Regions from separate parts of the Homo sapiens genome. Here region 1 is linked to region 2. The links come from fine-mapping of genetic effects on plasma protein levels. A gene starts in region 2. The other region holds a variant in brackets. All regions are shown on one strand. Distances are from middle to middle. Region 1 has its middle 55 kb from the start of LINC01441. Region 2 holds the start of CBLN4 (cerebellin 4 precursor).

Evidence for each region. A credible set is the group of variants that fine-mapping cannot tell apart. PIP is the posterior inclusion probability: the model's chance that the variant is causal. The UK Biobank Pharma Proteomics Project read protein levels with antibody pairs (Olink). The fine-mapping took linkage between variants from a reference panel, not from the people measured, so its PIPs are less certain.
Region 1: its variant is the best candidate, but not a certain one, in a credible set for the plasma level of the CBLN4 protein (UK Biobank, PIP 0.51).

What each region holds. Positions count from the first base shown.
Region 1 is chr20:55,474,291-55,490,490 of GRCh38, reverse strand. No RefSeq gene overlaps it. Among named protein-coding and RNA genes, the nearest start is that of LINC01441, 55 kb to the right of the region's middle. The variant G/C (reference allele first, on the strand shown) is at 7,861.
Region 2 is chr20:55,996,649-56,012,848 of GRCh38, reverse strand. It overlaps CBLN4 (cerebellin 4 precursor), which reads left to right and starts at 7,330. Exons shown (of 3, transcript NM_080617.6): 1 at 7,330-8,968; 2 at 12,002-12,118; 3 at 14,095-15,492. The coding sequence starts at 8,678. The coding sequence ends at 14,292.

The sequences.
Region 1 (16,200 bases), 520 kb after region 2:
TGTTCTTACCACAAAAATTATAAAGGTACAGAAGAAAATTTGTGAAGGTAATGGATAGTTTATTACCTTTATTATGATGGTGGTATCACTGGTGTATGCATATATCCAAACTCATCAAATTGTATATATTAAGTACATGCAGTTTTTATATGTCACTTATACCACAATAAAGCTGTAAAAATAACAATTTAAAGTGAGAATTTTAATTTTTGAATGTTAGACCATTTGCCTTAGTCAATGGTTGGTGATCAGATTTTTTTCCCTCTTATTAAATTTGAAAGTCCTTCAGAATAGGACCCACATTTTTTAAATAATCAGATCTTGGCCTGGCGCGGTGGCTCACGCCTGTAATCCCAGCACTTTGGGAGACCAAGGCAGGCAGCTCACGAGGTCAAGAGATCAAGACCATCCTGGCTAACATGGTGAAACCCCAACTCTACTAAAAATACAAAAATTAGCTGGGTGTGGTCATGTGTGCCTGTAGTCCCAGCTACTCAGGAGGCTGAGACAGGAGAATCGCTTGAACCGGGGAGGCTGAGATTGCAGTAAGCCAAGATTGTGCCACTGCACTCCAGCCTGGTGACAGAGCGAGACTCTGTCTCAAAAAATAATAATCAGATCTTGATTGTCAATTAATTGTTGTATTTAGTTAATCCAGAGGCCAGCAAAGTCTCAGACCCATTAGATTAGAACATAGTGGATATGAGTACCACCCAACACGTGAGGAGAGTTCTGTTTCCTTTTTTGGTCTCTTCTGAGACATTAGAGGTTTGGCTCCAGCTTTTTCATCATCTCTAGCTCCAATAGTCTCAGATAATAATCAGCTCAGGATTCCTCCATCAACCTCTGGTCATTCAGCCTTTCAGTTGAGTATGAGCCATCTATCCAGGTAACACTCCTGGTTAGGATGCAAGACAACCCAAGGTCCTTCTCTGTCACTGAGATGCCACCCATGTTGACCAGTGAGCATTCATGCACTTTTGTTGTGGCAAACCTGGGGATCAAAGGCCATTCCTTCACAGCAACTGTAAGGCCAAGTGGCTAACTGTGCAGAGACATGATCCTTTCACATTTCTCAGGCCTAGTTGCAACAGCAGCCTCCTTTGTCCCACAAGCTCAAAAACACATGAAGCCTCCACCTCTTTCGCTAGGATTGAGGTGACAGAAAAGTATTCCATGCCTTCCTAGTTGGGGTGACAAGACTCACGGTATACCTATGGCTCTCTCTAAAATCCTCCTCTCCTCTCCAACTCTTCTGTCTCAGCCATTCAAGCTTCAGTTACAGCTGGAACAGGATACACAAAAGTGGTTTCCAACTACCTGTAAGTTTGTAAGTTTGACTTTTGGAATATCACTTTGGAATATAAAGGTACTTTCCATATTGTCTCTTTGCCTCAGCCAAACTGGAAGGGAGAAAAAATCTATTTTACTGTATTTTTATAGAGAGAAAAAGTATTACTTATTTTGTTCTGCAGTTCAAATCAAGTTTTTTTTTTTTCCTATGGATTCGCCTCTATCTTTACCTGAGGCCTATTCATTAAAATTCACCTCTTTTATCAAAGTAGTTTTCTTTGCAAAGATAGCACCTTCCTTATGAGGGATTTGAGGCCAGCTGTGTGAGTACAACCAACCTGAATTGCTATTCTGTATTTCCTCCTTAGAGCAAAGTGGCTTTGGATAATTAACCTCTCCTAGATTTCCTTTCCCTTTAAGCAAATGCTAACAATGACCTTTTAAGGAATGTTTTGAGAATTAGTCATGCAGGTCATAAAGACTCAAACACAAGGCTTTGGCACAATAATGACAGTTTCTGCTATTTTACTAAGATAATTTCTCTGTTATTCCTCTTCCTTGAGTGTTTCTCAACTTCTCCCCTTCTGACACTGGGGGCCAGGCCATTCCTGTTGTCCTGTGCACTATGGGATGTTGATGGTATCCTTAGCGTGTCCCCACCCAACGCCAATAACACCTCTCCCTACTCATTTGTGACAACCAAAAATGTCTTCAGACACTGTCTAATGTTCCTTGAGAGGAAAACCATTTCTGATTGAAAACCACTGCTTTAAAAAGAGAAATTCTATCAATGTTTAATGTGTGTATATACATATGTTTATATGCATGTAAGTATGTGTTTATGGGTTGTCAAAAAAGGGTGACTTCTAATTTTGTCTTTAAATTGTTTTCAACCAATGTAATAGGATTCATGCCTTGTAGGTCCTCTTTTTATTTCACATTTTCTTTTATGAAAGGCTGCATGGGCCTTACTTGGTTTCTTAACCTCACAGTGCTGTCTCTACAGAGACACTGATCACATGCCCCTTCTCCACCAAAAAGCACTGTATTTCATGTTCGGCTCTATTCCCATTACTGACTGACAGTCTGCTCTTGAATTTCAACAAAGGGCAGCAGATGATGTGGTCAGAAAGTTTTCAGGTTGATTTAAATACAACTTTGTAGGTCCTAGATTGTTTTATATAGATCAATATATCCATCATCTAAAAGTCATTTTAATCAAGAAGAAAATCGGACATGTCTCAAATTCTACAACCCAGGACCATATGGTGGGACCTCTAAAGTGCATCCTAGTTCTAAAATTCCCAATATTTATAGTCGCAGCCACAACTTCCCTACCCCTTCCTCTCTCCCATAGCACCTTCCTGTCTTCCACTCTGCTGGACCCCAAGATCTCTAAAATACTCAAAAACATCCTCTGTGTCAAAGAGGTAGAAATGATCTAGGAGGCAGGGAATTTCTTCAGTTCAAAGCTAGATCTTCCCCTCCCCCCCCCTTTTTTTTTTTTTTTAAAGATGGAGTCTTGCTCTGTGGCCCAGGCTAAAGGGCAATGGCGCAATTTTGGCTCAGTTAACCTCTGTCTCTCGGGTTCAAGTGAATCTCCGGCCTCAGCCTCCCGAGTAGCTGGGACTACAGGTGCATGCCACCATGCTTGGCTAATTTTTGTATTTTTAATAGAGCTGGGGTTTCACCATGTTGGCCAGGCTGGTCTTGAACTTCTGACCTCAGGTGATCCTCCCACCTCAGCCTCCCAAAGTGCTGAAATCATAGGCATGAGCCACTGCAGCCAGGCTTAAAGCCAGATCTTTTTCTTTTAATTTTATAGCACATTTTAATTTGAAAATATTTTTCTTATACCCATCTCTAAATTTTATATTTCCCTGAAGTTCCTCAACTCAAATTTTTCCTCCTGCCTTCTAGGGTGGATGGCTGTCTCTCCTTGTCTCTTCCTCCTCTGTCTCTCCCCATTCCCTTCTCTTCCTTTCCCTCCTGGTTTTCCTCAGTCTCTCTCTCTCCTGCTATCCAAGCACACATTCATAAGCTTTCTACCATTTTTTGTCCTTGTTACCTATGGCAGACACTGTGGACTCTGCTTCCAAATTAAACATAGTGCTGCAGATGTTGTAGCTTATGAGGTTTAGGGCAACAATTTATCTTTTCTTCCCCCCTGTTGTTGTCAGTGCTGCCCTCCAATTCTCCACCCTTCAAAATTATGGACAGAGAGGATGAGCAGCTGCTTTTCCTGCTGCTCTGAATAATTCATGCCAGTTTAGCTTCAGCTTGGTAATATCATTGGCCTTGTTTAATACCAAGGGGAAAGAAGGGCCTCTTGAGATTTCTCAAAAGTGTGAATTTTCAAAGAATAATTTTTTTTTCACCTCCAGATTGTTCAATATTTTGTTCCAAAAATAAAATAAAATAGTCAATGGAACATAAATTCTTTCCAAAACTCTTCCTGAATATGAAATTAATTGAGCATGTTACTTATCTTTCATTTGGGAACTATGTTATCCAGTCCATAATATATATTAGATATTTTCTATGCTACAGGTGCTGTGTTGGGCACTGGAGGGCTGGTCAAAACAAGTGGATCCCACCCTCAGTGAACTTACGCACTAGGGGAGGAGATAGACGTTTATCAAGATAACTACTCAATTACCACTTAAAAGACTATGTGCATCCCCCGGTAAAACAGGGGCACCCACTATATTAATTTATTCTACAAATACTTACAATCAAAAGCTATGTACCAGACACCCCTAGATGCTCAGAAAGCAGCAATGAGTGAGCAGGAAAAACACAATGTTTGCCTCTATGGGCCTATAGTCAAGTGCAGGATCCAGACCTTAATCAAATATTCACACGCGCATAAGATTGCGATGAGTTCAATGAAAGAAAGTCTCCCAGCATATTTTCTGGATGTTCACATATATCCATTTATCCACTCCTTCAGGCAGTGTTTACTCATTTCCTTCTCTGTGCTAGGCACTTGGATTTTATAGTCAGCTAAGTTAGATGTGTTCTCTGTTCTCATGGAACTGCAGTGTAGTGAAGGAGTGAGTAAAGAAGCAAAGATATACATGCTTCAATATTTACAATCAAGATTTGTTGTGGGTCTAGGTTACAAACAGGCAATATGCTAGGCTTTTTACATGAATTCTCTTATTTAGTGCTTATAACTACACCTGTGCTATGATTAATTGTTTTTTTTCTTAACACATGTAAAACCTGAGTCTGGGAGTTAGAGGGATATTTTCAAGACACAGTCTGATCAAGCCACATGCAGGCACCACCATTCATGGCTTTCTACTACTTTAGGATAAAACTCAATCTCTTACCTGCTTATAAGGACTAGTATGAGCTGCCCTTGTGTTGAAAGAGACCGGCAGGGTGAGGAAGAGACTACTGATCATATATACAAGGCTAAGACTGAATGCAAAGACCTATTTCTGACCTTAAATGAACTCTTTGACATACATAATTCTGTGCCTGTAAAAAAAAGTCTATTCAGCCCTAAAAGCCCGTGAAGCTTCAGCTTCATTCTAGTTTACTATGACTTAATTCCGTGCCAGGCCCTAAGTCCAAATTGGCTTGATCTTTAAGAGTTGCTTGTTGTTTATTTTATACCTCTCATCAGTCCTGGCACAGTAACCAGGCTGAACAATAAGTGGGAGTAGTTACAAAACCACCTCATAGGAATTAAATAGAGAAAGTATTTCTGTCCACACATCCAGAGGAGATAGCTTGACCTGTCTCAGAAGCAATTGGATAATACTCGCAAAACTACCAAATTAGAATGAAGGCTGATATGTCCAATCTGTATCACCCTCAGGCAATTTCCATTGAAAAGAATAATTATATTTTTCATAAGTTAACCAGCTCCCAAGCCTGGAAGAACAGGGCTTGCAAGAACAGGCTGCAAGTCTTCCAGAATTGCCGGGAGGCTGCACCTGTGAGATGATAATTATATCCGAACACTCTATATGCCCACCTCCGTCATCAGGCAGTTCCTCTTGTGCATTGTGTGCTAATAAATATGTATTTTAATGAATTAATCATAGCATTGCTTTAGGACTTGAATGCATTGGTTTTACTGAATATTGTGTGTTAAAATACCTGGTACTAATATGCCTGGTACTAAAAATGTCCATTCTTCCTTTCTTTGCAAATAAAGGTAATAGTTTTCACCATTTCTAATCAGATGTGCTTTTTTTTTTTCCATTTAATAGTAAGGGATGATTTTTTAATGAAATGACTAAAACTCTTTGCCCATGCAATTTACCTAGATAAACGGTTATATTTGGGTACATAGAGAAGCTGAGTAACCATGTTGCCATTAATATCATTTTCTACCAGTGGACTCATTAAGTTTAATGGGGAAAATAGGTAACCAAACTGCAGGTCACACTGTTCCAGCCTGTTTTGTGCAGGGATGTGACCACTGCATGGCCAGATAATTTTCAAGGGAATCTAATTATGTAGATATTTATATGTCTGTGTATTGTTAAATATTGGCCAGAAAAACTTAAAGTAACAACCAACCTTCTGCAGCTGGCTAAAATGTAATAGAAACTGGATTCACTATACCCCCTTGAAACAACAAAAAAAAAAAAAAAAAAAAAAAACCTGGGCAGAGATAATACTTAATGCAATATTTTTCAAAGCATTGGGCATGCTTAACAAATAGTAATCTCCAAAAGGCAGGAACATGGAAAACCCGTTAAAGAAAAAGTGATAAATTTGACTTCAAAATTAAAAACTTCCGCTCTTCAAAAGACTACATGAAGAAAACAAAACGACTGGCACCTATCTGATAAAGTACGTGTGTCCAAAACATATAAAGAACTCTCCAAACTCAGTAAGAAAAGAAAGAACTCGACAGACAAAAGATTTGAACAGATTTCACCAAAGATATACAGATGGTAAATTAGCACATCAAAGGATGTTCAATATTATTATTAATGTGAATTAAAACCCCAATGAGTACCACTACAACCTATTACAATAGTTGAAGTTTAAAAATTGACAATACCAAACAATAAGTATGTGAAGGAATTAGAACACTAATAAAATGGTGATTAGAAATTAGAAGGTCACGACCACTTTGGAAACACAGTTTAACAGTTTCTTAAAAGCCTAAATATACCTATCATACGATCTAGCCATTCTACTCTTAGGTATTTACCTAAGAGAGAAAAATGTACACATTATTCTCTCTTAGGTAATGCTATTCTGTACAGCCTGTGGAACCATAAGCCAATTAAACTTCTTTTCATACAAACATTTGTGCACAAATATTCAGAGAAACAATTTGCAGTAGTCAAGTAATAGAAATAACCCACAAATCCATCAATAGGTATGGTAAACAAATTGTGGTATATCTATACAATGATATACTACTCAGTAATAAACAGAAATGAACTATTAATACCTGCTAAAACCTGATGGATTACAACATAATTATATTCCGTGAAAGAGAACAAAAAATAATACATCCTGTATGATGCAATTTTTATAAACCTTTAGAGAGAACTAACCTACAGTGATAGGAAACAGACTGAGGGTTGCTTAGGTAGGAGAGAGCTAATACAGAGAGGCATGAGGATACATTTGGAGGTGATGGATATGTTCACTATCCTGACTGTGGTGATGATTTTGCAGGCATACACATACACAGAATTCTATCAAATTCTACTTTTTAAATATATCTGGCATTGAATGTTAATTACACCTCAATAAAAAAATGTCATAAAACAGAAACAACATGAGTAAAAAACAAAAACAAAACACCATTCTGGCAAACAGTGATCCCTGGGGCTGTGAGTTTGCAAATTCTGACATCTATGTATATGACTTGCTTTTGGGGTAATACACAAATACATATACTAAAATGCAAAATGGAATGCTTGCTAATTGGAGGCTCTTTTGTTTGATTCTTTCAAGTAACACAGGTATCATTTCTAACTCTGTTGAACGGTCCAGACCAAGGTTCCCCTTTGTGAATGGTGTGATGGCCTCTTTTCAAGGTTTATGATTAAAGTCCAGAATCTCTCAATAGCAAATGATAGCATGCCAGGCAGAATTCGTTTTTCTTTTGATGTTCACACATAATTCCTATTCATAATAGAAGGAATTACGGGTTTAATAGTGTCCCGAATGTCTGCCGATGCAGTCCTTTTTTTAACATGACTTTTCCTTGTAGAAGAGATGCCCTCATTGATATTGTGCTTTTGTTTGCCAAAGGAGCGCAGAAGACATCTTTCTGAAAGATTTCACGACACTTAAAAAAAAAAAATGAAGACTTGCTCAGAGTTTTTTATAAATGTAGCGGTAGAAACTCATTTAAAACAGTAATTTATAATCTATGGATTGAAGGAACTGGACTTGGCAGAGTGTGAACAGAAAATAATTTTATTCTTTTTTTCTTCTGCTCCTTCAAACTCCTCTTCTGTGCTATCCCCTTTTCTATCCTGGATTAAGTCTTTTGCAAAACACGTCATTTTTTTAATGTTCCTTCAGTTAGAAGAAGAGTCATTTTGGTAAATAAAAAGCTCCATCCGTGCTATA[G/C]TAAACCACCAGTCCTTCAGCAATCTTAACTCTTCTCTCTCTCCATTCACTTGTAGACTGGGTTCTTCCTTCTTCCTCAGGGTCCCTTCCTCCTCACCAGCAGCTACGTATGGTTGCTATAGGGTTGGGTGCATGGAGGAGAGAGGAGTAATAAGAAAAATAAAGGTCTTGCCAGAGTGGAACTGTCTTAAATAAGTTTCTACTGCTTATTTAATTTTTTATTCTACCTCATACATTTATAAAAGACACTCTGAGGAGAGTTCATTTTTTTTTTTAAGTATTGTGAAATCTTCAGAAAGGTGTCTTGTGCACTCCTTTGGTGAAGAAAAGCACCATGTCAATGAAGGAACTGTTGTAATCTGGCTTTGGACCATCATCTCATCCGAGTGGAGGACCAATTTCTAGGGTATTCTTAAATCTCTTAGAGGGGTCCTTCTGGAGTGTCCAAACTTGTTCACTTGACAAGAACAATGCCTTCTTTATCATCAACTGGACTTCTTCCTCGGTGGACACTGGTCCTCTTGGCTGGGTCTCTTCTATTTTTTAATTTTAATTTTAATTTTAATTTTTTGAGACAGAGTCTCGCTCTGCTGCCCAGGCTGGAGTGCAGTGGCGCGATCTCGGCTCACTGCAAGCTCCGCCTCCTGGGTTCACGCCATTCTCCTGCCTCATTGGCTGGGTCTCTTCGAAGACAGCCCTGGAACAGCTCCCTTCGGGCATGGCAGGCAATGTCTGGTCCACACTCTCTTGCTCTACATTTAATGAAGGTACAGTCAGCTTGCAATGCACCTTGTTCTCTTTGCTCTATTACCCTCTCCCTTCCTCTTTAGATTCTTCCATTGAACATCAGATACTAACTCCTGTGTTCCCCAAACTTAAGGAGGGCATAGGTCTAGTTCCCAAAATGGTCCTTTTAAGAAAATCTTCGTCTCAGTTGGCTGAAGGTAAAAAAGACGCACCTTATTTTATTTTTCCATTGTGGTGTGCGGTTATAAAATACACAGCACAGCTACTGTTCTCCCTCCAATAGCCTGATCTACCAGCCCTTCATGTAGCTAGAATCTTATGCAAGTAATATGTGAGCAATGAACTACCTCTGGCAGAACCTCCAGGGTCATAATGTCCGCACAGCTGGTGAGAACTTTACTTAGAATAGGATTCCTATCATAAGGACTCCTCTTGTCCTGTTCTAAGCTTTGGAAAACAACCAAAAGGCAGCAGAAGGCAACCTTAGAAGTCATACTTAACTACACAAGTATCCACAGAAAAAGTGGTACAAAAAAGAATAATAGTCACAACTAGTCAGTGTCTTTCTCTTTGCCCTACTCTCCAGTAACCCAATGATGAGATTATACTCCAACTTTCAACTCAAAATTAGTTTTGTGAAAATCTAGTTTATAAGTTTTGAACCTTTTCTTACATTACCATTAATGAAAATTGGTAAAAACATGGCCTGGAATAAATTAAGCTTAGAATTTAAATGAATGTCATCTCATCTTCAGTTGTCAACAACATGCAAGTGAGGTAATTAAATCATCTCAGATTTTCTGTGCTAAAATATCCAAATGTTTAAGAGGAAAGTAGGTGGGTGGTATTGTGCTGTTTTTGTTTAATTTAAATTAAATAATTGGCCAAATTACCATTTCTTAAAAGACTCAGGGAGCTTAATCTGGATTCAATTTTCACTGCCTATTTAATAAGGCACATGTTCCAAGAACACGGGGCTAGACTGGGTACTTGCTGAACTGCCAGCTCTTTATACTAACTGTACTAGTCCATTCTCGCACTGCTATAAAGAAATACCCAAGACTGGGTAATTTATAAAGACAAGAGGCTTAATTGGCTAATGGTTCCACAGGCTGTACAGAAAGCATGGCTGGGGAAGCCTCAGGAAATTTACAATCATGGCAGAAGGCGAATGGTAAGCAGGTACGTCTCGTATGACTGGAGCAGGAGAGAGAGGGGAGCAGTGCCACTTTTAAACAACCAGAACTTCTGAGAACTATATCATGAAACAGCACTACAGGGACAGTGCTAAACCGTTAGCAACTGCCCCCATGATCCAATCACCTCCCACCAGGCCCCACCTCCAACAATGGAGATTACGACTGGACATGAGATTTGGGTGGAGACACAGAGCCAAATCATATTATCACCTTACGATTACATCTCTGTGATACGGTTTGGCTGTGTCCCCACCCAAATCTCATCTTGAATTATAGTTCCCATAATCCCCACATGTCATGGGAGGGACCTGGTGGGAGGTAATTGAATCATGGGGGCAGTTACCCCCATGCTGTTCTTGTGACAGTGAGTTCTCATGAGATCTGATGGTTTTATAAGGGGCTTTCCCCTCTTTGCTCGGCACTCATTCTCTCTCTTGCTGTCCCGTGAAGAGGTGCCTTCTGCCATGATTCTAAGTTTCCTAAGGCCTCCCCAGCCACGCGGAACTGTGAGTCAGTTAAACCTCTTTTCTTTATTAATTACCCAGTCTTCGGCAGTTCTTTATAGCAGTGTGAGAATAGACTAATACAGCTTTTTATTTTTTAAGTGGCATATTCAGGTTAGAGAACTCCTCTCAACAGCTTAGCTGGTGTCTGTCCAGACTTCCTTCATTTATACACAGACAGACCTATACACACATACACGTGTATACATACATATAAATAACCATGCACTGGCACACACATAAGCACATACAGTGCTTGTTTTCTTTTTAAAATAAAGGACTACTCTAATTTTGCAATTGGCTATCTGGTTTTTGTTTTGTTGTATTCTTTCCCCCTCACTCTGTAAATCATGGCCCTCCTTTGGCATAGGTGTGTATCATCTGTGTTCCCCTTTAATATGACTAATCTCGCTAATATTTATTAAGTTAATTTATTTACTCATTCTATTCTTGTTGGTCTTTTGGGCATTTTGTAGGTTTTTACAATGCTGCAATAAATGTCTGTAAGATTTAAAATATGTATGTGACATATCTTTTAGAGTTATCATCACCTTTGCTTTTATTTTGATAATTTTAAAAAATATGTAATCTAGACAATAATTAAGAATAACGACAATTTCAAGAGTGAAAAAAGGGGACTGTATCAGTAGAGGAGGTTTTTGTGATATCTTTGGTCATGATCAAGCAAGAGAAATAGAATGAATATAACCAAAATGCTCTCCCAAGGGGAGTAATATGCCTGCCCTTTGCTCAGACTTATCTGGAGACGTTGCCTTGTAAGTACCAGATGGCCTATAATACTTTGGATTTATTTTATCATTTTAAAAGGTTAGAAAGAACCAGACATTCAGGCTGTTCCTCTGCTGGACACGAAGGATGTTAAAAACTTTCCATGATCCCAATGAGGGCCAACTGACTTTTGGTCCCTCTGAAAGTCCTAGAGAGATTATCTTTGTCCTTGGGAAAGGGCCAGTTTGCCTTCTGTCTATGCTCATTTTGGGAAATATACTCATTATTAATCCAGACACAGTTCTCAAGCAAATGGAATGAGCAAAAAGGGACCACCAGATTGATGGTAATAAGAATCTTCCATGTATATAGATAAGATAAAGGGGATTACATTATCTGCATGTATACATTAAGTGTTCATTTTTCATATAAATAGGTCTATTTAATAAGTAATGGCACTGTAGTCCATTAAGTTTTGTGGTGAATACATCCCTCCTCCCTCTGAATCTTGTTTAAGTAAAAACATTTGGTTGGGTAATGTGACCAATGTACTTTAGGGTAGCAATTTATGGTACTCTCTTATCAGAAATTGCTTCCAAATGCCTCATATCCATATTTGAAATTCTGCAGGCAACAATTTTCCTAAATCTCACACATGGAGCTATGTGGCAGATTGCTTTAACTGACTTTATCAAGAAGCAAATAAAGAGTACATGGGTAAAATGGAGGAAAACCAAATAGAAATAATATGTGAGTATCAATTTTTACAAGGTTATTACATGTAATTTTACACTAAACATTTTTAATTAGCCTATTTCAAGCCACATTTTATTGTTAATATTATCCCAAGAATATTGGCTAGGTCTATGCTTTTTAAAATAAATGTATACAAATATGTAGATGTCTTTGGATTTTCTGTTCCTTCTTTCTTGATTCCCATAAATCCCTTTTATGAGGCTATGTCGGGCTCAACATTTGGTTATTAGTCAAATTCACTTCCTCCTGTTAAAAAGGACAGTTCTGGGTCAATTGGCAAATTTAGAATATGGATTGCTTTGAGATTCTAGTTTTGTATTAATGTTAAATGCCTTAAATGTAATATTGTGTCATGGTGATGCTCCAAATGGCACTGTTCTTAGCAAACACAGGCTGAAGGATTTAGAAGGGTCAAGATGCCTGTAACTCTTAATTGGTTCACAACAAAATTGAGATAGAGACATACAGAAGAGGGCAAAATGTTAGCAATTGGTTAAGCAAAGTGGAGGAAATATGGGAGTTCATTATACCATTTTTGCAGCTTTTCTGTAGATTTGACATGTTTTCAAAATAAACAGTTAAGAAAAACAAAATCACTTCCTCAGAGAGGCTGTCCCAACTGGGGCTTATGTTGGGAAATAATGCCATTGCTGCTCTATGTATTCTAAGAATCTAACATTGTCATGATGATTATTTATAATTTTAACAGCTCTACCTTCTGGATATAATTCAAGTAGACTATTTTAATCATGACTACATCCTAATAGCCTATAATGGTAAAAGATGCTCCAAGAATATTTTTGGAAAATCTGAATAAATGGCAGACACATATTAGTTACCCAAAATGTTTCCAAGATTTCTGTCCTTACAATGATTGATTGTCACATCTCAGGAAATGCAAACACTTTAACGTGTACATATAAGATGTTTCATTTCAACACATATACACATAACACTAATCCATGTGTATAAACATGACCAAGAGTATGGTGCACCGTAGAATCCAATTTATTTTTAAATTCACCCACTGTTTTGGATTATCCATGCTATTGATCTCATTCATTGGCAAAAGAAAAAGATAGTAATTACCTGAATTTCCTTTAATAGGCGCATTAAAAACCAACATTGAAAAATATCATTGGTATAACCATTGGAACACTGAGGCAGTGTTACTAAATATTTACATATTTTATGAAAAATTTTAGAAAATTTATACACGCTTAGAAAAGATTTCTGCTCAAAGCAAGCAGATGTATGAAACATGTTTCTCTTTGTCTAATACAAAAGACTAGCAGCATGTCATTTATCTGTGCCTTTTATCAGACAACTTGTGACCAATGTTCAACCTCTTTCTTCCTAATCTTAGCTAATTTTCCAGCATGAATTGTACAGTTGAATCCGATTTGTTTTATTTTATTATTTTGAATATTTCTATCTTTCCTTTGGACAAGGAATATTTATTCACCAAGGAATAATAGCTGCAAATGTTAATGTCCAATGTTAGTTATCAAGTCCATCTTAAACAACACATGGGGTACATACTTTTATGCTTTGGAGTGTTTTGATTTTTGTTGGGCAAAACAGGCATCTGGCACATCAAAGAAAATAATCCCGGTAAATTGAAAGGATCCCTCAACCTAAAATAATGAGCTTCATGTGTGTAGCTCATTTTTTTGTTAATTGCTCTTAATTTATTCAGCTGAAATACCTTACAGTTTTCCATGATTAAAGGGCATGATGTTTGACTTGTCATTAAATTAGTTTGATATTGATACAAATGAGCTATAAAGTATCTTCATGATTGCTTCCTGAATAATGTGAATGTATTTTCTTTTGTTACTTGCTCAATAAAGAATGAAATATACCTAATCTTTGGGTTTTGAAACAAATCTTTTGCAGTTTAAAAATGAAGGAAAGGGGAAATTAATCAGCAAGGAATGCATTTCCACAAAGAAATTAATAAGCTTCCACTGGTAATGAAGCTTATTTATTGCAATGCAAAATGAGTAATGGTAGGCATTTCCATTTCCATCTTAAACCTGATAGAAATATTTTGGAGGCTGAATCAAGAGGATTGTTTGAGGCCAAGAGTGAAGGCTAGACGGGGCAACAGAGTGAGATCCTATCCCTACCAAAAAAAATAACAACAACAAAAGAAAAAATAATCAGCCAGGTGTGGTGGCTCATGCCTGTAGTCCTAGCTACTTGGGAGGCTGAGACAGGAAGATTGCTTAAGCCCAGGAGTTTGAGGCTGCAGTGAGCTATGATCACACCCCTCTACTCCAATCTGGGCAACAGAGTAAGACCTTGTCTCTAACCGCCCCCAACCCACCTCCACACACAAATCTGACAAATCTCCATCAAAAATGAAAACTATTAGCTATAACTATACACAAGAAACTCTGTATTGAGCAGTGAGTGGCCCAATCTACAGTATCACATTTACTAAGTCTGCTGCTATTACCTATAAGTGTGTGTATTAGAAGACATACAAAAAGTTATTTTGCTGTATGATTTAAAAAAGAGAAAATATATGAAAATATATACCATTATTAGGCATGTCTCAGGTAAAAATAACTTACCTTTACTAAAATTTTGCCTATATCCTTAAGCTATAGAGAAACCTATTTGTCAGCATGCAATTCAGGGCTTATAACATATATGTAATAGTTTTTTTTCCCTATAGAATAAGAAAGACACCTCGAAAGGAGAACAGCTGGTAGCCTCTAAATGTTGAGGTCTTGCCCCTGAAAACACTGAATGAGATGCTTCCATTCCCTTTCCTTCAGTGAATTTTCCATGTTTCTAAAAGATGAGCTAGTAGCCCCTTATTGAGAACATATTTAGGATTTCATACCTGACTACACCAATTCACACCCGTTTATTCCATGATCCCTCTCTCCCTTTATTTCTGACCACATCTTTTTAACTTTTACATGACTGTCAATCTTTTTGTGTTTCTGGTTACCTTACTTACTTTGTCATAGGAAATCTAAGTTAAAACTGTCCAATAGAAATTAGATGTGAAAGCCGGGCGCAGTGGCTCATGCCTGTAATCCCAGCACTTTGGGAGGCAGAGGCTGGCAGATCACCCAAGGTCAGGAGTTTGAGGCCAGCCTGACCAACATGGTGAAACCCTGTCTCTATTAAAAATACAAAATTAGCCACGCGTGGTGGCACATGCCTGTAATCGCAACTACTCGGGAGGCTGAGGCAAAAGAATTGCTTGAACCCGGGAGATGGAGGTTGCAATGAGCAAAGATTGCGCCATTGCACTCCAGCCTGAGGAACAAGAACAAAACTCTGTCTCAGAAAAATAAAATAAAAAATAAAAAAGAAATTAGATGTGAGCCATAGATGTTACTTAAATTTTCTGGTAGTTGCGTTTTTTAAAATAGTAAAATGTAGAAACTAATTTTAATATATTTTATTTAACCTAATACATCCCAAATATTGTCATTCCAATATGTAATCAGAAAAAAGAATTAATGATATTGTTCTTTTTTTTTCTTTGATGCTAAGTCTTTTTTTTATTTTAGGTCGAGTCTCACTGTCACCTAGGCTGGAATGCAGTGGCATGATCTCAGCTCACTGCAACCTCCAACTCCCGGGTTCAGGTGATTCTCCTGCCTCAGCCTCCCGAGTAGCTGGGATTACAGGCGCATGCCCCCAGGCCTGGCTAAATTTTGTATTTTTAGTGGAGACAGGGTTTTGCCATGTTGGCCAGGCTGATCTCAAACTTTTGGCCGCAAGTAATCTGCCGGCCTCAGCCTCCCAAAGTGCTGGGATTACAGGCATGAGCCATAGCACCCAGCCAGATGCTAAGTCTTTGAAATTTGATGTGTACATTATACTTACAGTACATCTCAACTCAAACTAGCCACATTTCAAGAACTCAAAAGCCCTGTGTGGCCTGTGGCTGCCACACTGGACAGCACGGCTCAAAGAGAAACACAGAGGGGACTAGAATTAACTTCAACTTAAGGGCTTGCAGTTGCCCTCCATCAACCTCCTAGAATGTGTTAACAGAGGCACCTAACATACAGGCCATAGATTTTAAATCTGGAAAATAAACAGCTCAGAGTAGATGGTATTAAGCATTTGTTCTAACTCTAAGACTATGATACCATTATATAATGAAGACATTTTTACTTTCTGGCTTCCTTGGGGGTTGCTCTGAAAAACCATTCCCCATGGTTAAGTAAATAACATTCCTGCTGTGACCCACCGGGGAGCAGCTACACAAATGTGTCCTGTAAAGAGCAGCATTCTTGCAAATCAGAGCCTGCAACTAGGTGGGCCTACCCTAGAGGCTTTTTTTAAAAAATTGGAAGCTCATATATGAAGTCATTAAGTTTTGTTTTCATTTTTTCATAGCATCTTAATAAACATGACTTGTCTCTTTC
Region 2 (16,200 bases):
GTTGGCTTGTTTTAGTGGTCATGTTGTAGGAAAATACTTTCCTTTAAACACTAGAATCACACACAACGGCACAAGCTGCTCATATCTGAGAGGCAGCAGGAATGGAGCAGCAACAGCAGATCCGCACTTCCCATCTCACGCTTACAAAGGACAGATGTTCACTGAGTGCCCTGGCGAGGAGAGTTGCCTATTGGACTGAAGCTATTTTTCTCTCTTCCCACAAACCACACGCGCTAAAGTCAGGAAAGTTAAAAGTGTCTAGGACTCTCCATAGTTGGCATACTAGCTCCTAAGATGCCCGTGTTGGCTCCTGGATATTTAACAACTGCCGTGTTATTTTCTGGTGTCTACCTGGCTTTCTGAACTCCTGTTTCTGTGGTGACTGTTTCTGACCAGCTGTTCTTGACTTTCTGTATAATTTCCACTTTGAAGAATCCATCTATTTCCACTCAATGCTTCTTTCAGATGAGACATAATGATTGAGAGTATGGGAAGAAAGAAATAAAAATAAAATTAAACCTGTTGTTCATCCCCTGTAGGGAGCTCACAAACATGCCTGGTGTCTTCGCTTCATTCAAGAGCTTTAGCTCTGCATAATGATAAGCATTGATCTATCAGCAATGGCTGGCCCTGCAAACTCGGGTGTGATTATTTTCTGGGCATCTGAACCTGGATTGTCTCTCACACTTGGGTACACTTCGTTTTCCCCTATTATAATGTCTGTGAGGTTAAGTTGGGCCATTGCTTGCCAATAGTTAATGGGCCTTGGTTTAGAGTGTGGTGGTTTGACACCTTTAGTCATTAGTAGAGTCTACAGATTAATGATAATAATTGCTACCCTTAATTGAGCCTTTCCTGTGTGCCAGGTGCAGAGCTAAATGCTCTGCCCAAATTTCCCCACTCAGTTCTCACAAGAAGCTATGGACTGAATATGATTTTCATGATTGCAATTTTCTTGGATGAAGGAAGGTTTGTAACTTGCTGTATGGTCATAAAGCTAGTAGGAGGTAGAGCTGACTCTAAACACCCTGTTTTTAACCATAGAGCTAAAAAACCCGAATGCAAATGGACTCTTGTGGCATCACGCCAATGGCATCTACAAAGTCAAACACCATCTGCTTCAGATTTACCTGGGTGCTGGTTAAGTAAACCTTCCCAGTTCATGGGCAGAGCCATTATCTCAGAGTAAGGCCAGAGAGTCTCTGTTGGAAAGAAGCATCCCAGCTGATTCTTACAAGTAGCCATTGGTTTGGACCCCACATTTAGACTCTTCTTATCTACACAACATAAACACGAGTGGCCAGGCACATGTCATACACCCAGCACTGAGCTATGGCTTTCCTAGATGCTAACATACTATATAAAGAAAGCCAAGTTGAATAAAATGTAGCGAGAAATTTTGACAGCATGCATCAGTGTTACTAGTTGCAATGGAATTTTTTTTCTTAAATGTATACTGTGAGGCTTTCTATATCAGAGCATCTTTCTAAACTTGGAGTAAGTGATTTTTAGAGTCGGATCAGTATAACAAAAAAGGGAGATTGCTGTTCAATCAATGCCACTTTTTAAACTTTAATTAAGAGTAAACTATGGAGAAGAAGTGTGAATGTGATAGATCACTATTGGATGATCTACTCAGAAACCCTTTCTTTTTTAAAAAATATTTTAAATGTGGGCTGGGCGCGGTGGCTCACGCCTGTAATCCCAACACTTTGGGAGGCCGAGGCAGGAGGATTATGAGGTCAAGAGATCGAGACCATCCTGGCTAACATGGTGAAACCCCGTCTCTACTAAAAATACAAAAAAATTAGCCGGGCGTGGTGGTGGGCACCTGTAGTCCCAGCTACTTGGGAGACTGAGGCAGGAGAATGGCGTGAACCCGGGAGGCGGAGCTTGCAGTGAGCCAAGATCATGCCACTGCACTCCAGCCTGGGCAACAGAGCGAGACTGCACCTCAAAAAACAAAAAATTTTCAAACGTGAATCACAATGTAATACACAATTGCTGTGAGCACATATATAATAAGGAAACATCTGAAATACAATTAATAGTGTTTCCTTCTATTCAATTCCTTTAAATTTGACAAGTTGTTGCCAACTTGTATTCTCTGTGTATTGAAATACACACATATCTGTACACACTTGCAGGGAATTAACTTGGAATCACACAACACAAATTAGTCTGCCTCTTGTTCTTCTTCCCTTTGCCACATATTGCTTATATTAGCTTTCTAGGATTTTTCCTTTTCCCATGCCCCGCCCCAATTTTCTACACACCTCATTGCTGGGATATCAGTCACGTGTGCAGCATGATTCTGTTTCTACAGCCAAGTTGATTGGTTTGGGATTGGGCATCTGAACGCAGATGGCTGCAGTGCATCTCTTCTCGGGGATCTGGGGGCATCTCTGAGTGGATGGCTTTGTTATGTGTGAAATCTGGAAGTATCAGCTGCCATTTTCCCTCATGCGGGCCTCAGAGAACGGTAGATTGCAGTGAGCCAAAGAATAATGAAGATGTGCCCAGGAGAGGGGAAGAGAGGGAGGGACACAGAGAGAGCAGAGAGAGAGAGAGAGAGAGAGAGAGAGAGAGAGAGAGAGAGAGACAGTGGGGAGAGAGAAAGAGAGAGATGGGGGAGAGAGAGAGAAAGAGAGAGACGGGGAGAGAGAGAGAGACTGGAGAGAGAGAGGGAGAGGGAGGGAGGGAGAGAGAGAGAGAGAGAATTTTTTAGGTTCTTTCTAAGATTTTACTACAGTCTCAAGGTTCAACTCAACACATTTCAAGATGTGGCCCTTTCCACAAAACCTTTTCTCACTGGGCTTCCATTCTTAGTAACTAAGGTGGACTTGACGTTTTAAGCCCCCAACATTTCTGAAATAATTTTACTTTTCCTATCATACTTAGATCATAGTGATTAAATGTTATATTGTTTCCCTTATGAGAACTAAAAGCAATGATGTTACTTTATTCAGTAAACTTTATTTATGCATACCTACTCTCTGCTAAATTCTGTCCTCCCAAAGAGTTAATGGTCCAGGGAAAACACAACAATAAATCAACTAAAACCATTATGATAAATATAATGACTGGAACATGCTCAGGGTATCATGGGAAGCCAAAAAGGGGCATCAAAACCTGTCTGCAGCCATGACCAAGACGTCTCACTTCTCACTGATGTCTTAGACACGTACCTTATTTGCCAATGGGGTGAGTGGAATAAACTATCTAGAAAAACTGTCCCAAACAATTTTCAAATTCTAAAACCAATTGAGAAGTATTTTTTACAGCATCCATCTATTTTTTTCCCACAATACCATCCTCATATGAAACAAGTCTGTCATTTGGCTGTCTCCAGAAGGAGCTATGAAGATTTACTCAACATGACTCTGGAACTTTCCAGACTATGTAAGTTCTCACATATTGGTTGTTCATGGAGACTTTTTCTTCTTCTTCTTTTTTTCTAATATACTTTAAGTTTTAGGGTACATGTGCACAACGCGCAGGTTTGTTACATATGTATACATGTGCCATGTTGGTGTGCTGCACCCATTAACTCGTCATTTAACAGGTATATCTCCTAATGCTATCCCTCCAACCTCCCCCCACCCCACAACAGTCCCTGGTGTGTGATGTTCCCCTTCCTGTGTCCATGTGTTCTCATTGTTCAATTCCCAGCTATGAGTGAGAACATGCGGTGTTTGGTTTTCTGTCCTTGAGAGAGTTTGCTGAGAATGATGGTTTCCAGCTTCATCCATGTCCCTACAAAGGACATGAACTCATCCTTTTTTATGGCTGCATAGTATTCCATGGTGTATATGTGCCACATTTTCTTAATCCAGTCTATCATTGATGGACATTTGGGTTGGTTCCAAGTCTTTGCTATTGTGAATAGTGCTGCAATAAACATACATGTGCATGTGTCTTTATAGCAGCATGATTTATAATCCTTTGGGTATATACCCAGTAATGGGATGGCTGGGTCAAATGGTATTTCTAGTTCTAGATCCCTGAGGAATTGCCACACTGACTTCCACAATAGTTGAACTAGTTTACAGTCCCACCAAGACTTTTTCTTCTTAAGCTACTTACTCTCCCTCAAAAAAGATCATTAGCTTGGGCTGATAACTATCATTATAAAGAGCAAAGGGTAATTAAGCAACTCAGTGGAACTTTGTCTGGGTATGATGCAAGCCTCACTGCTCTCTCTCTCTCGATTTTCCATCTTCTGCACGACTGACCTGCGGCTGTCTCTGCTGCATGATGCATGGAGTCTGCTTTCATTCAACCACAGTGAGGCCCTTAGAGCTGAATACCTTGTGTGTGTCTGTCTTTGCCTTCTCAGAAACATTTTCTTCACAGTCAGAAAATAGCTCATAGATCCTTACTGTCTTGGGCTTGCTTGAAACTTGGTTTCTCTAAAGGATGGCTGGACAAGCAGTCATTGAATTTACTGACCTCAGAAGTATTGCTTTCCTATGCAAGGATAGTTTAGATTCTAATTTACTTTAAAGTTAAGCCCAGCTGCAGAGAACTGAAATGCATTTCTGCGTCATCTCTAAAGGTCTAGGAGAAAAAAAAAATCCTAGGCATCAAATACAATATGGGAATCTCAGAAAGGGAAAATATTTGGGTCACTGCTAGGTCTTCTAATAGCATATTTTCAACTGGAAAAATACAAGAAAAAGAAAAAGAAAAACAGATCTATGCTGTGGTTGGAGAGAAACTTAAACTTGATCTTGTTTCTTTTCTCCTGGGGATGCTGGGGCTGAAGTAGGGGGTGAGGAACAGGTGATGCCTCCTTTCCCAAAATGTTGGAAAAGCATTTCCTACAGGCAGGAGATTGGATTTGTTAGTCTTTTGGCAAGAGATCCATAGCCTTTTGTGGTATGGTTTCTGGGACAATGTTCTAATGAGGATTCTGGATGACAGGGAGCGGTATGTTACTAAAACTAGCTCAAGGGAATTGGGTTTTTATTTCAAAGACATAGGAGGATACCAAGAAACCCAAGGTTAGGAGAAAATGTTTCTGGAACTCTTGTAAGCAAGAGTTCAGAACTGGCGATTGACTATTCACTCCCTGTACTTCTTAGAAGTGCTCATGCTCCAGAATTGGCTTCTTTCTACAAGTGTGGCCAGTCCTCTGGTTTATTCCAATACCTCTTCTGCTTCAGCTTGCAGATGACTCCTACATGGCCACGTCAGTTTGGGAGACTACAAACCTTGTCTCTGCCACATGTAGTGCTTACTGGAAGCTATTTTGATGTCTCATTAAGATTGCAGAGAGAAAATCTGGCAGCCCCAAGTCATCTGGCCAAGTTGGACCATACAAATCTTGGACTTCTGGTATCAAATGCATTGATGGTCCTAGAACCCAGGGGCTATCCGTGTTTAATCAACTGTTGTGGGAAAAAGAGTCAGGACCCTCTGATTCACAATATAAGATAACTTCTCTTAGCGGGGGTCCACAGAAAATGCTGTGTTCCTTATCTTCAGAACACTTTGAAGAGCAGAACATCCTTTAGTAAGGAACCGAGACCCTTATCCCCAATTATTAAGGAGGCTTTGAATTTAAATTTTACTGAGAGAGACTCATTTAAAGCAGTTTATACTATAATATGAGTGATAATTACCTTCTATTAGGAAGCATTCAGTCATTTCTCAATTATTGAGTCTTTACTATGGTCACTATGCAGATTTTGGGACTAAAAATGAATATTTTTGGTGAGAGAAAGAATAGGTTTCTTCAAATCTCAGTTCTTGCGTGCAGGAAGTGCCTGGAGAAGAAAAGGAGGTAGAGAGAATATATTGGAATTGGTGAGGAAGATAGCTTATTTTCTATTTAACAATTCAACACAGTTTTTTTTTTTTTTTTTTTTTTTTTTTTGTCAAACTTCTCCCAGCCTGAAATTGAACAACCAAAGTTCTAGTTATTGAACAGCTGTCCCAGACAAGGAAGGCAGGGTGCTTACCCCTACAGGAAATAAAAGGAACTAAATTCAACTCAGCACCCACCCTCAAAAGACTGCATCAAATGAGAAGAAATTGCTGCTGTTAACCAGGCAGACATCCCTAAAATCTGGAAGAGAGTTACAAAGTGCAGAGAGGGATCAGGTGAAGATTGTGCTGGGCTTAGGGTGGGGCATCAAAGCTGGGTAAATGGTGGCCATCTTCAGAAGGCACTAGTTCACCTTGTTTGGTTGTAGCTTAGATAGGTAACTTTCAACATTTTAACAAATAGCATGGTACTAGCACCTGCCAGCCGGAACTGACACCGGCCTGTAGTCTCAGCTACTGGGGAGGCTGAGGTAGTAGAATCGCTTGAGCCCAGTAGTTTTGCATCTAGCCTGGGCAATATAGCGAGACCACCCCCCACCACAAGTAAAATAAAATCATAAAGTCAAAACACCTGATACTGGCCCCACTGGAGCAGAATCTGAAGGCCCCTGTGGCACCAAGTATTAACACTTTAGTTGAGAGATTATAGGGAGGTGAGGGTTAGGGGATTCCTCGTAGTGTCTTCAATTTTAACAGTTGGAGCTGGTGCTTATAGCTCAATGCCCGGCCCTTCTGAAGGAAGGGAAAAAGGCTGGAGACGAGGTTCACCTTGTTTTGTGGAGGGCTCGAATGCCACGCTCATGAGGGCGTCCTTCACTCAGGAAGGAATGGGAGCCGTCCATCCCAAGGACCTCCCTCAATAAACATCCCTTCCATTCATAACTAGCCAATGCCATTTTAGGAGCTCCGAATGCCTGGAGGGGATACTGTTTTGGTTAAAGATACCATACGTGTCTGCCCTCTGGCAGCTGGAAGTGTAGAAGAAATTGGGGAAGGGGCGCCATGACCCCACAGCATCACAGAATTGGAAAGCTGGCGGGATGGGGGTGGGGAGGACCTTAGTTAACGCCGCGCCCCCCTCTCAGAGAGGGTTAGTGACTCGGCCAAGTTCACGCAGCCGGGTCCAGACAGAGACAAACCTCCCTTCCCCGTGGTAGCTGCAGAAGAGGAAGGGAACTCTTGCAAATCAGAGGCCAAGATAGCAGTGGAGTGGCACGGGGGCGGAAAGCGCATCCAAAGGGGAGAAAAATGCTGTATTCCTAGGAGTGGGATTGTCTTTTATTTTTATTTTTATTTTTATTTTTTTATTGTTGTTGGCACGGTTTCGGAGGACTTATTCTTGCTGAGTTAACTCCCTCTCCCACTCTTTTTTTTGGCCATGCCTGGGGAGGATTCGCGGTGTGGGGGGAAGGCGCGCCCCTGCGGCTTCTGAGGCTCATCTTCCCGGAGCGGAAGGAAGGAATCAGGCACCTCCTCCCAGCCGCCCCCACGGGCTCTGGTCCGCCCCAAGGCTTCCCTGAGCTCGCCAGGCCCCAGGGCTGTGTGGGGCGGGCTCCCGGCCAGGCGCGGTCGGGACGCCCGCCGGTCCCCAGGTTCGGGGCAGCGCGCAGCGCGGGTCCGCGGCGGCTTATCCTTTTTCGCGACCCGGCCTGGCAGCGCCGCGCTCCGCTTGGAGGGCACTCGGCGGCAGAGTTCCGCGCTGGGAGGGGTGAGGGGACCAGCCGCCTCCTCTGCGGACTCAGATCGAGCAGGAGAGAGTGGGCGCGGAGCTGGGGCCAGCGCAGGGCCGTGGGCTCCTCTCTGGGCACGCATCCTTTACGCCACGGGCTTTCAGGGGCTGAGGGGCCTCGAACCTTGCCAATCACCAGTGCTGTGCGCCCCGCTTGCTTTGGGGTGCGTTAAACGTCAGGAGAGAGCTGCTCAGATGGGGTCACCAGACGCCTTCTCCCCCTTTTCTCGGAGCCCGCGGGTTGCGCGATAAGCCAACCCAGCCGGACGCTGCGCTCCTATAAATAGAGCGCGTGTGCCCGCTTCGCGCTCTCCGGGCTGCACGAGGGACGAGAAAGTTGTGCGCAGGGACTGGGGGCGGGCGGCCAGGCAGGAGAGGACCCCGCCGGACCAGCCGCCCTGAACGCTGCGCCCGGCGCCCTGGACCTGATCCTGCGAATCCGCGCTTTCGGTGCGAGGGACCTGGCTAGCCGCTGCCTCCCTCCCTACCTCTGGGTGACACCAGGTTTGGGGGATTTTTTTGACCAGGCGAAAGTGGGAGTCGCTGGCGTCCTGGCCATGAACACAGCCTCGCGTTCTTCTCAGCCTGGGAAGGACCTTCTGCCTCTGTAACTCGTCCCTGCCGCAAGCCAGACAGGACTGGCACCCGCGCCGCTGGGCACCCGCCACCCTTGTGGCTTCTCTTTGAGTCCCCTCTTTTTGTTCCTGCTCCGTGGTTTAGCTGGTGGTGCTTGAGTTTGGGGTGAGAATTTATTATTATTATTATTTTTTGCCTTGAGGTGTGAATGTGAGGGTTTGATGACTTTCAGATGTCTAGGAACCAGAGTGGGTGCAGGGGCCCCAGGCAGGGCTGATTCTTGGGCGGAGGAGAGTAGGGTAAAGGGTGCTGCATGAGCTCCTTAAAGGACAAAGGTAACAGAGCCAGCGAGAGAGCTCGAGGGGAGACTTTGACTTCAAGCCACAGAATTGGTGGAAGTGTGCGCGCCGCCGCCGCCGTCGCTCCTGCAGCGCTGTCGACCTAGCCGCTAGCATCTTCCCGAGCACCGGGATCCCGGGGTAGGAGGCGACGCGGGCGAGCACCAGCGCCAGCCGGCTGCGGCTGCCCACACGGCTCACCATGGGCTCCGGGCGCCGGGCGCTGTCCGCGGTGCCGGCCGTGCTGCTGGTCCTCACGCTGCCGGGGCTGCCCGTCTGGGCACAGAACGACACGGAGCCCATCGTGCTGGAGGGCAAGTGTCTGGTGGTGTGCGACTCGAACCCGGCCACGGACTCCAAGGGCTCCTCTTCCTCCCCGCTGGGGATATCGGTCCGGGCGGCCAACTCCAAGGTCGCCTTCTCGGCGGTGCGGAGCACCAACCACGAGCCATCCGAGATGAGCAACAAGACGCGCATCATTTACTTCGATCAGGTCAGACCCGGGGGGAAGCGAGCACCTAGGGGGTGGGCGGTCTCCAGGCACCTCAGCACGAGGCTGCCTGCCCAGGCTAAGCTGGTCCGATTGGGAAATGGGGAATCATGTAAAGCACTCGCCTTCCCAAATATGCCTGGGTCTGAAACTTCTACCGTCCCTCTTCCTACCCCTCTCACCAGCCCCGGCTCCCATTTCTTCCGGGCCCCTAAAAGAGGCTGCTGCGGCGGCGGGGGAGAGGCTTGGGAGCCCAGAGCCCGGCAGCGAGAGCTCAGGGCAAGTTTCGAGCAACAGGTCGGCGGGAGCCGAAGGGCACCTGGTCCCTGGACGTCGTTATCTCTTGGCCAGATCTTGGTGCCCTTGCTCAGACTCCTCTGCGGGTGCCGCTGAGGCTGCTCCCTGGGTACCTTTGCGGAACAGGATAAATGTTTGATTTGTTTCTCCCAGGTAGAGAAGCTTCTCTCCCAAGAGAGCCCCGGGCTTCCACACTCTTCAGAGATCGGGCAGGTGGCCGCGGAGGGCGGGGGCAGAGCCGGGGGTCAGATCTCGCCTGCAGGTTCCACTGTTCGTGTGCCAGGCACCGCTGGCACTGCCGCTGCCTCGGAGTAGGCAGCAAGCCCTTCTCCGGTACTTAGAGAAAAGTTGCGGAGGAGGGGAGGAAAAGGAATTTGGCAACTGCGCTGAGCTCCTGTAGGAAAGCGCTTGGGAGCCAGTTCTCCCTTCCCGGGCTCATGTCCTTTCAGAGAATTGCAAATAGCTGGGGAAAGACAGACTTTGAGGTTGATGAGAGTAGGGGAAGAGCTGACGGAAGCTGTAGCTGCTGTTTAGCGACCTGGTGCTCCGTGTTTGGCTTGATGAGAAACCCCAGGATATCAGCTTACCTTTAGCAAGGGGTCTTAAGGGAGAAAACTGTCCTCAGAGTTTTTAATTTCAGCCCCAACAGTATCCAGAGTCTTTTTAAATTCCAAATTCACAGTTCACAGTTGTATGCAAAGCTGCAATGTGCAGGGGGCACAGGTTAAGTGGTGTTGCAGGATGTGCCAGGGAAAGCACGAGGTGACATCTGTATTCCTTGCTTAATTTTTCCTAACTAATGCACTCTCCAGCTGGCCAAAGACAGAGAATGCCTCTCTAGGGGCTTAGTATTTGATAGACATAATTTTTAAAGAATTAAGTAGCTCCATTTGGGGTTTTGGTGCAGTATTTTCCATCTTGATGGAAATAAAGTCTAGCACCACCCCTAGTTTGTATTTCAATGCTTTAATTAAATGTTGGAATACTGTGGGCATTGCACTATCCTCTATACAGGGTGTTCCTTTCAATGACCTTTCCATCAATTAGAAGAGGAAAAGGGTTTGTTCTTCTTTTCAGTGAGCCTTGCATCTTAGAGACAAGAACACACATTTGGTTATAAATCTCGATGTACCTGGATGCTCCAATTACAGTGTAGAGTCAACATCCAGTTTTATATGTAGCCAACACTAATCAGCTATTTTCATTATTGCTAATGAATTATGCTACTTGTATCTGAATCAGGAAGTCACCACTAAGCACCTCAAATTATTTTAATTGTGCTTGAAAAATTTCTTTGTAAAGCCTCTGCTGGGGATTATTGCACAGCTGGTGACTTGTTGAAAGACCATCTATCATCAGGTTACAAAAAAAATCTGATGCTTACTTGGAAGAAGGCGAAATCTCAGAATGAAATTATACACGTACATGTGTTTTAAGTTAGGTGTTGAGCCTGATACATCTGCTTGACTGTCACTACATTCTGGTATGTTGCCCAGAGGTAATAGTACATTTTTAGGGAATTATGCAAGAGGCTTGCAAGTGTGTTAATATTGGCAAGAATGCAGTGTTCGAAAGAGATAGTAGCAGATTGCCATTGATATATGAGAAGTATATCTTTTTAGGGACCTCTTATTATTTTTGAATGCCACTTACAGGTGTATTTCTTGGAAAGAAATGGAACAAACCCTGGTTATTTTAACATCCATCCTCCATCCCAATCCCTCTTTCTCATAGAAAGAGACTTACCCATGTGACATTGCAAATTTAGCTTAAGAGGTCACTTATTAAAATTTAGAGTTAATTTTATAACCAATAGAACTAGGCTGAATATTTTGGAATACAAAATGCATTGTTGCTTTCTTGGGAAACAGTATCTAATTTCACTTTTGAACCTTGAACTTCAAATAAAGAGCAGGTGATTGATAGGAGGTTAATGGACAGCCCGGGGAGGAACAGGGAAAGCCACCTATTTCATAGTTTAGCCTTCTCTATGCTCTCCTCTTTGGCAGCCCACAAGGGCTGACTCATTGCCACATTATTATAATTAAGGCCTAGCTGGCACAGGAATGAAAAAAAAAATGGTAACAGATCTTAGGAGAGGGGTGGTGGTGGCTCAGAGAAGGGCCAGGCATTCAGATCACTTTGTGCACCAACTGTTCAGTGTCAAGGATTATGTCACATGGTGGAGGGGGTACCCATGCCTCTGTGGTTTGTCCAGGGATGCTGCGGAGAGCTCACAGATGCTGATTGGCTGGCTTGGAAACGTCACCTCTGGACATTGCAAAGGCTTGTAGAAGGTGGGAATGTAAACACATAGCGGGTGCCTTTTATCCAACTCTCAAGGTAAAGCTAATATTTATAAGTTCTCAAATGTTAGCTCGATGTTTCCAGAGCCATTGGGCCTTGCTGGAAATTGAGACATGAATACAAAGCAGTTACTTTATTTATTCTTATATCATTTAAAAGACAGAAGAACCTTCCAGTATTCCAGTCAATTTTCCAAATCAGTTAAGAGGAAAGATACAGAACTAGATGTTTTATTTTCTATGATTTCTTAAGCTAGTTGCCAAGAATGAATGAATGAACAAAAGAAAAAAGAAAAGAAAGAAAGAGGAAGGAAGGAATGAAGGAAGGAGGGAAAGAAGGAAGAGGAGAGGAAGAGAGTGAGAGGAAGAAAATTCATTTTAGTTACAGAAGAAAATATAATAACTTATTGTTATTTATTATTTTTATTTGTAGATCCTGGTGAATGTGGGTAATTTTTTCACATTGGAGTCTGTCTTTGTAGCACCAAGAAAAGGAATTTACAGTTTCAGTTTTCACGTGATTAAAGTCTACCAGAGCCAAACTATCCAGGTGTGTGTTTTGACCTCTTCCATCCATACTCTCAACCAACTGTGCTTATCTTTAGTGGGTTATATATTTAAGTACTTATCCAAAGTTGTGTTTCCACAATAGAAATAAGCAGCCATCTTTATCATTTATTTTAAAACACTTAATTTCTAATTTTTTTCTCTTTAACATCCATTAAGACGTGACAAAAAGCGTATAGAAAAATAGAGAATTGAAGTTATTACCTTAATAACAATCAAACATTTTTTAAAAATCCATGGTTGAGTAAAAATTCAGTGACACAAATCTCTTTGTAAGATCATGCTTTCATTTAATGCATGTACAAGAATTACTTGAACTCATAAGAAAAAAACTTGTAAGACTAGTACAGCTTTACAAGTGCATACTAAATAAATAAAACACATTTGCTATTTTTTAAAATTATGAGATACAGCTAATCAGTAAGAATAAGTCTATGAAGGAGGAACTATTCAAAATACATTTTTAAAAAACGGTGTTCTATGCGTATGCTTGTGTTTATCCTCAGTTACTCTGATGCTAGTGAATTCTTACCAACTGCAGTTCCACAGTTAATATATTTTGTGTTCTGCTTTCTAAGACAATGGGCTTGACCTTACATTCAAAAGCAACAGTGGAGCTTGTTCCAACAATATTCCAGTATGCTAATACTAAATGACACAAATACATGTGCATGGAATTCTAAGATAACCTTTTATCTTATGCTCAGTATTTATGTTATACATTATGTCAATATGAATGATAGATTACATGCTTATCTATTAATACTTTTACATGTCCTAGTAAATGGATAAATGGATCAGCCTCAGATTTAATTTATTCCATATGACTTTTAACCTAAAAAAATCTAGAAAACAAACTTACTTCCATGGAAAAGTTTTCCCAACCCCCAATATTTAGAAATGTATGCAATGCTTGACACAGTGTAATCAAAATTGAAGAATAGAAAATAGTTAATACAGTTTTGAGTTGATTCTAATTATCTGTCACTGAAATCTCTAAAATTTAAAATCTAAATCTAAAATCACTAAAATCACTAAAATCAGTGATAGTGGTGATTATTATTTTTTATTTTTTGGTTTTTCTCTGAGATAGGGTCTCACTCTTTCACCCAGGCTGGAATGCAGTGGCATAACCATAGCTCACTTCAGCCTCAAACCCCTGAGTTCAAGCAATCCTCCTGCCTCAGCCTTTTGAGAAGCTACGACTATAGGTGCATGTGACCAATCAGGCTAATTTTTAAATTTGTTGTTTTGTTTGTTTTAGAGATGAGGTCCTGCTATGTTGCCCAGGCTGGTCTTGAACTCCTAGCTTCAAGTGATCCTCCTGCCTTGGTCTCCCAAAGTGTTGTAATTACAGGCATGAGCCACTATGCCTGGCCTGATGATTGTTTTTGATGCTTGTTTCCTATCAGGGAAAATAGAAAAAGAAATAAACACACACAGACACATATATACACAAACTTCATTATTTCAATTGATTTTCAGTAGTATGCATGTTACAGCTGCACAAAAATTCGCAAGGATGTTGGTAGGATTGGGTTGTATCTGGGTCTCTTATGTCAGTGGGCAGAGGGTCTCTTTTACGAATGTACCGGGAAGCCACAAGCCTGCTCTATTTCCAAAAGATTATTGTTGGGTGGAAGAGTTAAGTAAAGCAGTAAGCTTAATTTATGTGCTGAAGGGAAGCTAGTTTTCACATGGCTAGGTTGGTCTCCATAGATGTTATTCTTTTGTAGGAATTTAAGGAAATTCCAATCAGAAAAAAAAAATTAAAAAAATCAGTTCAGCAGACATGTGAAGTATGGCCCCCACAATTGGCTAATTTGAAAGGAAGGGAATATATTTCCTGAACATCAGGTATTTTACTGGGTCTATCATCTTAGACATTATTTATTCTCCCCAGTAGATGTTTTGACTTTAAAGAGAACTTTTCAATTATTATTATTTTTCTTCTTCTAGGTTAACTTGATGTTAAATGGAAAACCAGTAATATCTGCCTTTGCGGGGGACAAAGATGTTACTCGTGAAGCTGCCACGAATGGTGTCCTGCTCTACCTAGATAAAGAGGATAAGGTTTACCTAAAACTGGAGAAAGGTAATTTGGTTGGAGGCTGGCAGTATTCCACGTTTTCTGGCTTTCTGGTGTTCCCCCTATAGGATTCAATTTCTCCATGATGTTCATCCAGGTGAGGGATGACCCACTCCTGAGTTATTGGAAGATCATTTTTTCATCATTGGATTGATGTCTTTTATTGGTTTCTCATGGGTGGATATGGATTCTAAGGATTCTAGCCTGTCTGAACCAATACAAAATTTCACAGATTATTTGTGTGTGTCTGTTTCAGTATATTTGGATTGGGACTCTAAGCAGATAATACCTATGCTTAAATGTAACAGTCAAAAGCTGTCTGCAAGACTTATTCTGAATTTCATTTCCTGGGATTACTGAATTAGTTACAGATGTGGAATTTTATTTGTTTAGTTTTAAAAGACTGGCAACCAGGTCTAAGGATTAGAAAACTCTAAAGTTCTGACTTCAATCAACGGTTAGTGTGATACTGCCAAAGAACTGTATACTGTGTTAATATATTGATTATATTTGTTTTTATTCCTTTGGAATTAGTTTGTTTGGTTCTTGTAAAAAACTTGGATTTTTTTTTTCAGTAACTGGTATTATGTTTTCTCTTAAAATAAGGTAATGAATGGCTTGCCCACAAATTTACCTTGACTACGATATCATCGACATGACTTCTCTCAAAAAAAAAGAATGCTTCATAGTTGTATTTTAATTGTATATGTGAAAGAGTCATATTTTCCAAGTTATATTTTCTAAGAAGAAGAATAGATCATAAATCTGACAAGGAAAAAGTTGCTTACCCAAAATCTAAGTGCTCAATCCCTGAGCCTCAGCAAAACAGCTCCCCTCCGAGGGAAATCTTATACTTTATTGCTCAACTTTAATTAAAATGATTGATAATAACCACTTTATTAAAAACCTAAGGTTTTTTTTTTTTCCGTAGACATGACCACTTTATTAACTGGTGGTGGGATGCTGTTGTTTCTAATTATACCTATTTTTCAAGGCTTCTGTTGTATTTGAAGTATCATCTGGTTTTGCCTTAACTCTTTAAATTGTATATATTTATCTGTTTAGCTAATATTAAATTCAAATATCCCATATCTAAATTTAGTGCAATATCTTGTCTTTTGTATAGGTCATATGAATTCATAAAATTATTTATGTCTGTTATAGAATAAAGATTAATATATGTTAGTTGAATTGTTTTTTTCTTTCCGTTTTGGAAATATGTATTCTACATTATTTATTTCCTCTTACTTTGTCTCTTCTTAACCCTTTCTTCCTTCTTTGCTCCTTTTTTCTTTCTTTCTTCCTTCTTCCCTTCCTTTCATCCTTTCATCCTCTCATTTCTTTTTTCCTGAAGTCTAAGAAAAGCTTTCTGAATTTTCAGGTAGTGTCCTCTGAGCTGATATAGGAAATCTTTACTGTGTTTAATTTGTCCAAATGTAGGAATTGCGAGCTTGCCAAAAGAGAATCAATGAACTTAGTAAACTCTTCTTTCAGAAGGGCTGATTGTTAAAAAGTTAAGTTTAGAAGATCCCCTAAAATATCAGGAGGATGCTCAATGTATGAATGAGTGGTGATGAGTTTAAAGACCAATATTCTCATACTGAAGACTTTGAGGAAAAGTTCTGCCCTTTTTTCAACACTAAAAGACAAACAGAGGATCGCAGGCCTCTTCTTAGGAGGAATTATTATTACACCTGCCTTATTTGGAGATTTGGCTCAATTTCCTGGTCTTTAGTCCATTAAAACAATTTTTGGGGGGTGGGGCAGGGGGCTTTTGTATTTAGTGGCAACAGGCAAGGTATTATAGGGAGACACATGCATGCATGTCTTCCAGGATAATTGTGTTAATTGCCAAGTCAAAATATTCATTCATCACCAGGAAGACTCCTCTTTCTCTGAAAAAAATTATCTGCAGATGCTGGCAATGGATCCTCAATGTTTTGCTTGGCAAGTTGTCTTCTGTTGGCTTCCTGTCA